Regions from separate parts of the Homo sapiens genome. Here all the other regions are reported to be linked to region 3. The links are microRNA targets in miRTarBase. Many come from high-throughput screens and were not tested one by one. Region 3 holds a microRNA gene; each other region holds the end of a gene's coding sequence.
The links. The annotated mature microRNA hsa-miR-548g-5p reads UGCAAAAGUAAUUGCAGUUUUUG and lies in region 3 at 1,160-1,182, opposite strand. An mRNA with a match to its seed (bases 2 to 7 or 8) in the 3' UTR can be bound and repressed. Matches are read on the target gene's strand: a 7mer-m8 pairs with bases 2 to 8, a 7mer-A1 pairs with bases 2 to 7 and ends in A, and an 8mer does both.

Region 1 (3,188 bases), not on the chromosome of region 3:
TTTGGTCCTGTAGCTTTGAAAGTTAATTATCTTGATCATTTATATATTATATTGCCCAGAGTGCTAATTTAATCGATGTGTTTTTTATAGAAGAGGAAGATGCTTAGTACCTTCAAAACATTATTGAATTATTACATATATAATTTGTTAACTACGTACAATTATCATAAAATTAATTTTTGCTTTTTGTTTTCTTGCCAATAATAGACGTCTTCCATGTATGCACCTTTTCCACCAAGTGTGTGTTGACCAATGGTTGATTACCAATAAGAAGTGCCCCATATGCAGAGTGGACATTGAGGCCCAGCTGCCAAGTGAAAGTTGACACCATGTTTCAGAACTCTTGCCCTCCCTCTCATTCCCATCCTTCCTGGTACTGCAGTCAACCAAAGATGGCATGACTTACCTGCGCAGATTTGGAAGCATTGAACTTAGAGTGCTGGCTCTGCTATATGGTACAACTAATGCTAGACCTACAGTTTATGTATACAGTTGATTTTGATGTATTTATAAAAGCTTTTTTTTCTAGATTTGACATTTTTCTGTATCATTTTACTGTATTTTTGCATGGTTCCTTGTATTGCATTTCTTTGCACATATTATGGGCTTGTGACCCTAAACTTGCAGGCAAGGTTAGCTGCTTTAGTAAGTAGAATTTTGTGGTCTTTTTGTTTTTTACATAGTACCAAGCCTTGATAATTATGAATTTTTTATCCATTACTAACCTTTAATTTAATCAATCATGTACTTTAGTTTAATGTATAAAGATCCTCTAGAAAATGATAATATTGTGTATTAAGACATTCCTTAATTAGGACAAAATGGCTGCTGTATATTTACTATATGGAGTTCTGAGTTAAATACCATCCTTAATACTGGGAACAGAATACAACCCATATAAATCAGATGCAGGTGGTAGTCACATCACCAGAGTGATCAGTATAAATTTTCTTGGTGTATCCTTTTCCTTTCAACACAGTGCAGATAAGAGTTGAATATTGATATCATACATTTAGACTGCTGTTCTGATTGCATTTATCTTTTTCCTACATCATTTAGAATTTTATTTCCCTGATTCAGTTTTTGCTGCTGTGAAACAGCTCTGATGAACACTAAATATTAATTTCAATTAGCTAGATTGTACATACTTGCAGATTTAACAAAATTTTAGGGAAATTGAAAAAGACATGTAGAATTTGTTGTCTTCTGCTAAGCACGAAAAGTTAAGATATCTGCTTACATTGATTTTGTAGACACATTAAGTCAAGATTTGGAATTTAAGTCACTGGCAGGTATCTGTGCATTCATAGAACTTATAAAGGTCCCAGGATCACTTTTAAGGGATTTTTATTAGTTTAAAGGTAAATAAAGTCAGCTGAATCTACATGTCTCTTGTTTTATTTCTCTCTAAACTTGAAAACAGTAAATCTGCAGATACTGTGAGGCACAAATTATACTGTCAACCTACTGTTGCTATGGTTATATACTCCCACTTCATACATTACCAAGAGTCGATCACTGATTTAAAATTTTTAATTTCTATAGTTAAGATTTACTGCATAATATAGAATATAAAGTTAAGTTAACATACTAACATTTCTCCTTTGGAGGAAGTTTTAATCTACTTCAGGATGCATATTATTATCAAGATACTTTCATATACAGGATAGCCTAATTTTATTTGTTTAAATATGCTTAATATGCCCCAGATTGCAAATGCATCCAGTCAGTAATATCACTGTCTGTATGTGGAGGACATGTTCCCATGGATCATATGTGAAGATGTCAATAAGCTTGCATTAAGCCACCTGCTTTGTAAGTGGATTGATTAATAAATAACTTATATTTCTATTGTCTTTGTGTTTCATAATTAGTTTTTATAAAAACAGTTTACATTAAACATCTTGGAATTCAACAATAGTGATCTCACTCAAATTGACATTTGCATAATTTGACATTTATATTCATTCAGTTATGACTACTTGCCCTTTTCTTCATATTAGTAAATGTTACACTGTAGTAGTTGTCAATGTTAACAGGCTTCAACATAGTATGTGTGCAGATGGACGATGGATTTAAAGAGCATACCTTATGATTAAACCGAGGTTATAGAAGGTCAGGGGAGAGTGAAGGAGTCAGTGACCTATGTCTGCCATCTTACTGGGGAAAAGAGCAAGTAGCCTGTCTTCCTTTAAGTAAGTAGCCTGTAATGGATGTACTACTTTGCCACTGGAATACCCCGGGTCTGTGCCAAGGGACTGAAGAAGTGTAAGATGGGGAGAACTGTATGTCATGGAGTCCTCTTGACGTTCCCCCAGATACAAGTAAAGCACAGGTGGATTTCTCTATTTTTGAATACTACATCAGATTTAGATGCACGACTACCTGTTGACTTGTTTTATAATTGCTACTGATTTTTTTAATGTAGGCAAAGCTTTGTTACTTTGAAATTTATTTAATAAAAGTATTTGTGACATAAACCTGAATTGTTAATATAGGAGCTTATTAAGCTACTGCCATTAGTTATCGAAAAATGTGATAAGTAATGAAGAAAGTAAGGAAGAAAATGACTTTGAACATTTTGACTTTTTGTGCTTTGTTTTGGTGTCTTCCATATCCTGCTGCATCTTATATGTCAAAATGAACATTTCAGTGGTAGCTGTCCAAATACATAAAAACTAAAATTCTTTTGTTAGCAAGTCCTTATTTTTATTGTTGTTAACATGCAAGTGATAAACTGATAATTTGAAACATTTTTCTTACTCTGGTGACTTTCTTTTAGCTGCTAGCACACTTCAGCATTTGAACCATAACAGTTGTGATAAACTGATCGTTTGAAACGTTTTTCTTACTCTGGTGACTTTCTTTTAGCTGCTAGCACACTTCAGCATTTGAACCATAACAGTTGTGATAAACTGATCATTTGAAACGTTTTTCTTACTCTGGTGACTTTATTTTAGCTGCTAGCACACTTCAGCATTTGAACCATAACAGTTGACTTAGAGAAAACTACTTTTGTTTTAAAAACTGTTACTTGTTCACGCCTGTAATCCCAGCACTTTGGGAGGCTGAGGTGGGCAGATCATGAGGTCAGGAGATCGAGACCATCCTCGTTAACATGGTGAAACCCCATCTCTACTAAAAATACAAAAAATTAGCTGGTCATGGGTAGCGGGTGCCTGTAGTCC
Region 2 (3,188 bases), not on the chromosome of region 3:
CGAATAAGTCAAGGACCTAAAGAACCTCAAGGATTCCACTTTACAAATTCAAACCCTGCTGTGTCTGCTTTTCATTCATTTCCAAACTTGCAGAGTGAGCAACTTTTCTCCAGAAACCACACTACAGATAGCCATAAGCAAACAGTAGCAACAGACTCTCATGAAGGACTTACAGAAAATAGAGAGCCAGATTCTGTTGATGAGAAAATTACTTTCCCTTCTGACATTGATCCTCAAGTTTTCTATGAACTACCAGAAGCAGTACAAAAGGAACTGCTGGCAGAGTGGAAGAGAGCAGGATCAGATTTCCACATTGGACATAAATAAGCATATTCAGCAAAAAGGTCTGAAAAGCAAGGGAATACCATTATTTTCGGATTAGCGGTTTATTAAGCTCTTCTATATTAAACACTAATAGATATTCAATAACGGAGTAAACTGTTCCAGATAAAGCAAGAATAGTTGCAAGAAGTAAATTCTGGCACAAAGCGTAAAAATATAACAGAAGAAATAATGTAAAATACTATCTTTTATGTCTAAAGCCATTTTATATTACTTTTCAATAAAAAGAATATCATGGTCAACATAGAATATTTTTCATGAATTGGTGGGGAGATGTATATGTTTATATATAAAAAATAGCCAAATCGTTGCAATGATATGGTAAAGGACACATTTTTTTTTTTTTTTTCCTGTGAAATGTGGAATATCTCAAATTCAGCCTCTTAGGCTGAATAGCAAATCCTACTGCCAACTAACCTATTAAAAATATAGATAGTTTTGACTAAAGTACTACATTACATTTAGTATGTTGACTTTTAAAATACCAAAGCAATTTATATTCAATTAATGCTTCTTCATACACCAAGAATCTACCACAATACACAGCACACAAAGGCCGTTCAATAAACATTGAATGAATGAATGGTTTGGCTAGGGCCAGGGTGGGGAGTTAAAGTGAGAGGAGGGTATATGTTATAGAGAACAGTGGTAGAAGGAACTCTCCGTGCAAGTAAATTAAGGGAAAGATGGACACCAGAAAGGCAAGGTGATGGGCCTATAAGCATACTGGATAATGGAAGAAGTCCATTTCTTTCTAGCTAGTTTGAAGGGCCTAAAAGCACTGAGATGTTTTTGTATCTTCCCTACATTTGGAGATGATATTAGGTTGTCATAACAACCACAAATATAGACCATTACTAAATTGGTGGATGTCCTCTTTCTCCCATTGTTATTGCCTTCCTCTTTTGCCTGCTAAACTAAAAATTGGATATAAGATTGAGAATGTATTATATAATTTGCAAGACATAGAGGATGTTTATAGAATATACTAAAGTATCCCTCAGCACCAATATGGGAGTATCCTGGTCTCAAGTTTATAATTTTTGCACATATAATCTAAAGAAGAGACTTTAAAAATAAAGTACACAAATATGAACCAAAGAGTAGCTTAAAAATACTTTCTTCTAGGTCTGAAATTTTCTTTTCTTTCTTTTTTTGTTTTGGAGACAGAGTCTCACTCTGTCGCCCAGGGTGGAGTACAGTGGCGCAATCCCAGCTCACTACAACCTCCGCCTCCCAGGTTCAAGCAATTCTCCTGCCTCAGCCTCCTGAGTAGCTGGGATTACACGCATGCCCTACCACACCCAGCAAATTTTTGTATTTTTAGTAGAGATGACATTTCACCATATTGGCCAGGCTGGTCTCGAACTCCTGGTCTCAGGTGATCCTCCACCTTGGCCTCCCAAAGTGCTGGGATTACAGGTGTGAGCCATTGCTCCTGGCCCCAGCTCTGAAATTTTAACTTAGTTTTGGATTCCTTGGAATTTGAAAATATGCTAACACGAAGGATTGTAAATAGGTAGTTTGAGGTTATCAGGAACAGTAACTTGAAGCAAGAACATCAGAAATTGTTCACCATGCAAATATTTAGTACTCTGAATCAAGGAACATAGTATTTTTTACATGAGTATTCCAGTAAGGTAATTAAACTTATGAAAAGGGTATATAACTTTTTGTAAATCATTAAAACATTTTATAGTCCTTGTAATGATTTCAGGACCTTGGACAGCTAGAAGGGGCTTAAGAAAAAATGGCTAAGAAAACAAAGTAAATGGTTTTGGCCAGCTTAAAAAGAGAAAGCAAAATAGTTAAAAATACATTTCATAGATTGAGAATGTACGGGCTATGTCACAGTTACGCTACTTATTTTGTGGTTTTAAGTTAGTCTCAACATCTTTGGGCCTCAGAATCAACTTTTTTATGGGATCTTTTTTCTCTGTTTTTAAGATTATCTCTTTTTTCTTTGGTGCTTTGCAGGTTTACTGTATTATTTGGAAGTGCGAATTTATTTTTATTCTTAGTATATACTGGCTTCTTCCTGTATCTTTTAATTCATGTTCTGTAAAATTCTCAACCACTAGCTCTTCAAATATTTCTTCTCTATTCTAGGACTGTATACAAATGATAGACTTTCTTACTGTATCCTTCATGTCTCTTAATTTCTCATATTTTTCATCCTCTTGTTTCTCTTTACTGCATTTTGGGTAATTTCATCAGCTCTATCTTTCTGTTTACTAGTTCATTTTTCAGTAGCATCTCACCTGCTATTTAAAACAATGATGGTTTTAATTTCAATAAATATATTTTTCATTTGATTCTTTTTAACTTCCCGTTTACTCATTACAGTCCCTTGTAAGTCTGTTTCTAATTTTTAAAAGTCAAATATATGATATTTTTGATAATTTCAATATTTTAAGTCTTTATAAGTCTACATTTAAGGTTATTATTGCATATCATTGTGACTTATTTCCTTGAGTATGTGTTAATCTGCGAGAAGACAGAGGGCCTAAATTGTGTATGTTTTCCTTCAGTATGATTTGAGTTCGTTGCTTCTCTGGGTGAGGTGGTACAAACTCCTTGGCATACTCTATTCACCTTTGTGGATCCTGATTGAATGCCTTGTCTTAAGTGTAAGCTCCCTGACCCTTACTACTAGCCGAAGGTTTTGTCTCTGCAGGTCAATTCCAAACTAACAGGCAGATGCTGTTAGCTATCTGCCTCCAGGGATAAACCCCATCTTTCAAGCTTGCTTCTTGCTTGATGCTTTCTGCTGCTTTCTTGCTTTTGTTTCAGCTCGAGTTTGTTGTTGTTTTTTTTTTTTCCTGTTTCTGTCTTGAATGTAGAGG
Region 3 (3,188 bases):
ATTCTTTGCACTTCTAGTCTAAAAAGGGCAAGACAAATGCAATTGTGTTGTGGAGAAATATTTGGATTCTTTTGGAGAGAAAAGGAAAATCAAAGAAAAATATTATGCATGGTATGAATTGGGAGTTTATAATTCAGAAATTTACTAAAAATAATGACAAGAACCGAAAGTGAAAAAAGTAGCTTTATTTTTAGATATCTCTCACATGTGAGAGAATAACCTGATATTGGCCAATAACCAAATTAATTATTTGTTTCTCCATGAAGACTCCTTTCTGAATTAGAAGGAGAAAGAGGTGAATTGAAGAGCAGATTGAAAATGGAGATATAAAATCAATGACTCTTTTTTAAGGATGAGTCATCATGGCTTTTCTAGATGATTGATTGTGAAGTGGAAGAAATAGAACGAATTAAACTATAAGCATTTGAGCCCAGTAGTTCTCTGGGGCACTCTTCTCCACTATTTGAACTATCTTTATTTCATAAGCTAAGACTAAAAACATTGCCAAAGTGAACTGGTTCTCCAGAGTTTCTAGAGTGCATTATTATCATTCTCTAAAATGAAAATACATCTGATACTTCAAAAGACACATTGTTATGTTTTTTAATGTTTTGCTTATATTTCATCTCATTTTGAAAATGATTGAAGTAGCTTATAATAAATACACATAAACAATAAGCAAGTAAATAATTGCAATTGGAAACTAATTCTAAGTGAAAGACAATTATATCTAAGCTAATATCAAGAATGGACAATGACATTACATTTAACTCTGAGCTTTCTAGATGCCAAAATAAGGGCCAGTGATGAATTATGCATTGTTTATCTGAACAAAAGAATTATTTATTTAAGAGTTACACATCTTCTAAGACATATTTATGCATTTATTGCATGGATCCTTTTACAAATGCATTTAGACAACATAATAGACAACCACAAACAACTCCTGTCCAAATGTTTATAGGTTCACTAATGCATACCTACATATTAGTAAATAATTTATTTATGCACAAGTATGCTATGTGTGCATACATGTATATTTCTGAGTTACAGCATGTAATCTATATACACACATGTACATAACCATACATACAGATATACATATATGAAGTATTATGTTGGTACAAAAGTAATTACAGTTTTGCCATAGAACGTAATGCAAAAACTGCAATTACTTTTGCACTAATCTAATAACTCAGAGAAAGTGTTTCTCTAAAGGGGTAATGAAGTTGTGTAGATTGCTGGCAATGATGGCCCCAATTCTTTTCATCCCTGCGTGCTAACACTTGGTAATGTGATTTTGTCACTCCCTTGTCAAGTGGTAGAGTATAGTTCTCTTCCCCTTGCATCTGAGCTGTCTCTGTGGCCAGCTTTGGCCAATAGAAATGACTTTGTATGGCTTCCTAGCCTGGGCTTCAAGAGGCCTTGCAGCTTCTGCTCTCACACTCTAGTCCAGGCTAGCCCTCTTATGGATAAAAGCACATGCTAGCCCTCTTGAGGATAACAACCACCCTCAGAGAGAAGCCCAGCTGATGGTCAGCACCACCTGCCAGACAGTTGAAGAAAGCTTCTTTAGGCCATCTCACTCCAGTCGAGATACCAGATAACTACAGCTGCATGAGTGATCCCAGGAGAAGCCAGCAGAAGAACTGCCCAGCTGCAAACAACTCAAACTGGTAACCACCAGAATCATAAGCTAAATAAATTATTGTTTTAAGCCATTGAGCTTTAGGGTGGTTTTTATATAGCAACTGTTGATATAAGATTCAAGGTATAAAATTTCCTTATTTAATAACAGAAAAAAAGTGGAGTAATCTAGGGAACTATGGTTGCTCACATCACATTTCCCTAAGTTCTTTAAGGAGTTCTGAGAAAAGGGAGATGAAGAATTTACTTAGCTACATGTTTTTACCCCTTGGGTAGAATAAGTGTAAACTTACTTTTTTTTACAATACTTGCTCTTCTGACTTTTAAAAAGATAGATTTTAGTTAAAGGAAAGAATTCCTAGCAACAGCCCACATATTTTCTATTTCCTATTGCAGTCAATATGTTCCTAACTTTTTGGCCTGAATTTTCCAGGATAGTCCTGAGTTGTCATCATCAATCTATGCATTATTAGGCCTAATCTTCTGATTTGGAGTTGGAACAATATAGAAGCTATGGTTTGGCTGTGTCCCCACTCAAATCTCATCTTGAATTCCCACGTGTTGTGGAAGGGACCCAGTAGGAGGTCATTGAATCATGGGGGCAGGTCTTTCCTGTGCTGTTCTCAAGACAGTGAATAAGTCTCACAGATCTGATGGTTTTATAAGGGGGATTTTCTCTGCACAAGTTCTCTGTCTTTGCCTGCTGCCATTCATGCATGATGTGACTTGTTCCTCCTTGCCTTCCACCATGACTGTGAGGCATCCCCAGCCATGTGGAACTGTAAGTCCATTAAACCCTTTCTCCTATATAAATTACCCAGTCTCTGGTATGTATCAGCAGCATAAAAACTAACTAATACAGATGCTATATCTATATATTTTGAATACCAAAAGTATAATTGGCAAGTTAGGCATTTTCTTAAGGCATTTTCAAAGCCTGATCTGTATTCTCGCCAGATGGACAACACCCCCCAACTTTTCACAAAAGCATGTTATTCTTTTAATGCATGCAGATCAACAAAGCATGCACATTGAAGGACGTGCTGTCACTGGTATTGAAGATAAGACTCACGTGGACTGTGGCAAAAATAGAAATGGGAGACCAAAAAATATGTCTAATCTATTAGTCCAACCTAGTGATGATGGTGACTTGAACTAGAGTGTTGGCAATGGAACTGGGGAGAAGGGATGACTTCAAGGTTTTCTTTGAAATAAAAATGACAGGCCTCACAGAGAAAAGAAACGAGTAACCACTAATTCTGCTCTGAACAATTAAGTGGGTGGTAAAGGCACAAGGTGTGTGTGTGTGTGTGTGTGTGTGTGTGTGTGTGTGTGTGTGTGTGTAGGCAGGTTAAGTTTGAGATGCTTGTGAGACATCCAAGTATACATGTCAAGTATATAGTTAGATAGATGGGCCTGGAATGCAGATGAAAAATTAAAATGGGAATATTAAGTGTAGTGGGCAAAGGGGCTAGCAGAGGATAGTGAAGTTAAAGAAATCAAGTGTCAAATCAGTTAGAGCTTTATAGGATCCATAGTAA
Region 4 (3,188 bases), not on the chromosome of region 3:
CAAGTCCATTTCACACAGGCTCTTTAAGGCGGTGATAGTTTAATGGCAAAAACGTGATTTGAGAGTGAGTAGAAGATCTAGAACTGCCAGGTTTATTGTGGAAACCTGAGCACGTCTCTTAACCTCGTTGAACTTCAGTTTCTTTCCTCTATAAATAGGAAATTTATGTTAAATCACTTTATAACTTTATAAACTGAACCACATAAAAGTAATATTGTGGTATGGAACTTTTTAAAAGAAAAGTAAACATTTGGAAATTTCATGTCTGCCATGTAACTAATGTTGCTGCATTTCACATAGGTATTGGGAAATGAGAGAGCAGCGCACCCCCACTTTGAAAGGCAAGCTGGTTCAGAAGGCTGATCAGGAGCAGCAGGACCCTCTGGAATACCTTCAGTCTGATGAAGAGGACGACGAGAAGAGAGGGGCCCAGCGCCGGCTGCAGGAGCAGCGGGAGCGCCTGCATGGAGCCCTCGCGCTCATAGAGCTTGCCAACCTGACTGGGGCGCCACTCCGACAGTAGCTTGGACACTGACTCTTCCACTGTACAAAAGTACTGCCCAGCATACTTAAAAAGTAGATCCTTGGGCATAAGCTAAGCACCTTATTTGCTTATCATAGGCTGCTATTCTGTAGAAATTTATGAAGAATGTTATTGCCCCAGAATATGGGGTGAGAGAGAACTGCACTTTTTTAATATGGAAATGAATTCATCGTAAAGTTTAAAATATTTTGTAAATATGGACTGCACAGTACAGGGTAGAAAACTACATATTGTGGGAAGCTAGATTTTGCAAGTTTAATGCATTCATTGGAAGCAGTTCTCACAGGAAGCACTTTCTGAATAAGACACTTGTTTGAAAAACAGAATGGTACAAATAGCCAAAGAAGATTAAAACAGATTATTTATAAGATCATTTTTAACAATATATATTAGTATGTTTAACAATACTGTAAACACTGAAGCAAGCAAGAAAGTATAAAATATGTAAGATAGATAATTTTAATTGCAAAATACTGTGCCCACTAAGGCTAGAGAAATGGGAGGCTATTTTGGAAGATGTTCTAAGTAATGGACTTAGAAGAAAATAGATATTTGAGGCTCTTGGTAAGATGCACAATAGTTCAGAATTTTTGAAATTGGAGCAAAATCAGTCTTATTCTATCTGGGGCTTTACAACTCAGTATAATGTTTAAGTTTGAAAAGCACTTGTCATCCCTAGCATGTTAACTTGGGAACTTTTGCACATTTCATATTTCTCATTTGCTGAAATTGAGTGATTAATCTTGCAAAGTCTAGGTAACATAGTAATTGGTAATTTTAAAAATACATATTAAGGGCCCTGTAATGAGATTTGGCACTTGGATTTTTACTAAAGGGACACCTGCAGGGTTGTTTTGTAGTGAAATGTTTTAGATCTTTTGTTAGCAAACACTACATTTTAATTGTACTGCTTGTTTAGAATTATTAGCAAATGGAAGCCTCCATATTTATATTTTCAGTGCATAAAGCCACCTTCTTGCTTTACTTCAGAGTAACATGCCAAGCTATTTTGTGTTCACTAAATTTAGCTATCAGTTAAACACTGCAGAAAATATTAGCTACTCAAATAAGTAGGCTTCTGAAATAGTTTTAACTGCAAGTGTGTTAACTTGTGTGGTGGTTTGAAGCCATTTTTCCAAATAAAGTTATTAAACACCACTTTATGTACTGAAGCATGAACAGAAAAATCAAGAGCTGAGCAGACCACCTCCTTTATGTAGGCAAAACTTCCATCATTTTGGCTTTTGTTCTAAACAGAACTAAATGACATGCATAGCATGGTAACTTACAGATCGCTTAATTGGAGTAAAACTCAGAGTAATAGAGGGAAATATGGGCTCTTCAGTGCCTTTTTAGCTTTTTTGAGTTGAAGACGTTCCTACAGATGTAGTTTAAACATTACAAAGTAGGCTTCTTTATCCAAAAATCCCAATGTGTCATAGTACACAGATAGTTTAAAATATGTAGCCACGGGGAAGGGGAGGCATGTAAATGTCTTGAAGAGGAGAAAAAGTATGAAAGAAGATACGATAGTTACGAATAATGTGTATGATGAGGACATACTTTAAAAATGTAATTCCTCTGTACAGTAAATTACAAATCTTTAGGGATTTTTTTGTAATAAGAGAATTTATATTTGTAATGGTCTAAGAATTTTTTTGTAATGTGGTATATAGAATTTTAATTTGGAGCACTTATAAGCTGGTAAGAGAGACTATAGCATCTGAATTATCTTGGTTTATGTTTCAGCATTTCCTCTAGAATTTTTGCTCTCAAATATGTGATTTAATGAACTAAAAACAACACTCATCAGTCTTGGGAAATTTGAACTTTGATCAACTTAACTAAAGAAGGAAGGGTAGTAAGAATTTTTCAAATACAAATATTTGCCAATTCACAGATGATAACATTTAAGGCCTTCAAAAGTAAGGGTTTTTCCTTGTTTCTCCAGTCAGCTTTTGTCAACTCTAATAGTTTTTTCATAAACATTTTTTATTTGTATAATTGCAACAGTTTAAGAAATTATCACAACTATTTAGAAACATTTAAAATGTTCTTTTTGATATAAGCTATATACTTGGAAAAATACATTGGTATCTAAAATTTGAGGTGTGTTAAGACTGCTTTTTGTTTTAAAAAATGGTTTACATTCAAATTTTTGAAGTGTTTTATGCTTCATATGGCTAAGTTGTAGTTTGGCAGAGTTAACAGCATAAGAATAAACATGCTGTAATTTTAAAAGATGCTTTGAATAAAAATTTATTTTAATTTAAAATTTAAAGTACACGGTCATTCTTAAAGCCTTTATCATTTGTTTTCCTATCGAAAATATAATAACCATGATATAAAAAAATTTAAAAGATAGAAACATCACCTACAGCCTTATGTTCAGCCATCAGTATTATTTCAGTACATGTTTGCGTAGTTGTAAGTACAGTGTGGATTGCTTTTTCTTACTTTAATTATGGCTTTTAAGGTTATAGATATTTAACTTCCTCATCGGGTTCATTACTACAGTGTTAAAAATATACTGCTGTGGATAAGTATTGAACTATTGCCACCCCATTTCCAGGCCTTAAATTAGGGTAATAAGGAAAAGGGATTTCATTTCACTTACATTTAGGATGGGTTGTCTCTGGGGTCA

Region 1: miRTarBase lists RNF111 as a target of hsa-miR-548g-5p. Seed matches in the 3' UTR shown: 7mer-A1 at 562-568.
Region 2: miRTarBase lists POLI as a target of hsa-miR-548g-5p. Seed matches in the 3' UTR shown: 7mer-m8 at 1,245-1,251 and 7mer-A1 at 1,384-1,390.
Region 4: miRTarBase lists ZNF367 as a target of hsa-miR-548g-5p. Seed matches in the 3' UTR shown: 7mer-A1 at 790-796 and 8mer at 1,240-1,247.

The regions. Positions count from the first base shown.
Region 1 is chr15:59,094,576-59,097,763 of GRCh38, forward strand. It overlaps RNF111 (ring finger protein 111), which reads left to right. Exons shown (of 14, transcript NM_017610.8): 14 at 208-2,844. The coding sequence ends at 325. Among named protein-coding and RNA genes, the nearest start is that of CCNB2, 9.0 kb to the right of the region's middle.
Region 2 is chr18:54,294,141-54,297,328 of GRCh38, forward strand. POLI (DNA polymerase iota) reads left to right here. Exons shown (of 10, transcript NM_007195.3): 10 at 1-3,188. The coding sequence ends at 327. Among named protein-coding and RNA genes, the nearest start is that of POLI, 26 kb to the left of the region's middle.
Region 3 is chr4:147,343,522-147,346,709 of GRCh38, forward strand. MIR548G (microRNA 548g) reads right to left here and starts at 1,196; the gene lies at 1,108-1,196.
Region 4 is chr9:96,385,572-96,388,759 of GRCh38, reverse strand. It overlaps ZNF367 (zinc finger protein 367), which reads left to right. Exons shown (of 5, transcript NM_153695.4): 5 at 301-2,819. The coding sequence ends at 523. Among named protein-coding and RNA genes, the nearest start is that of SLC35D2-HSD17B3, 3.5 kb to the right of the region's middle. RefSeq lists an enhancer at 1-97.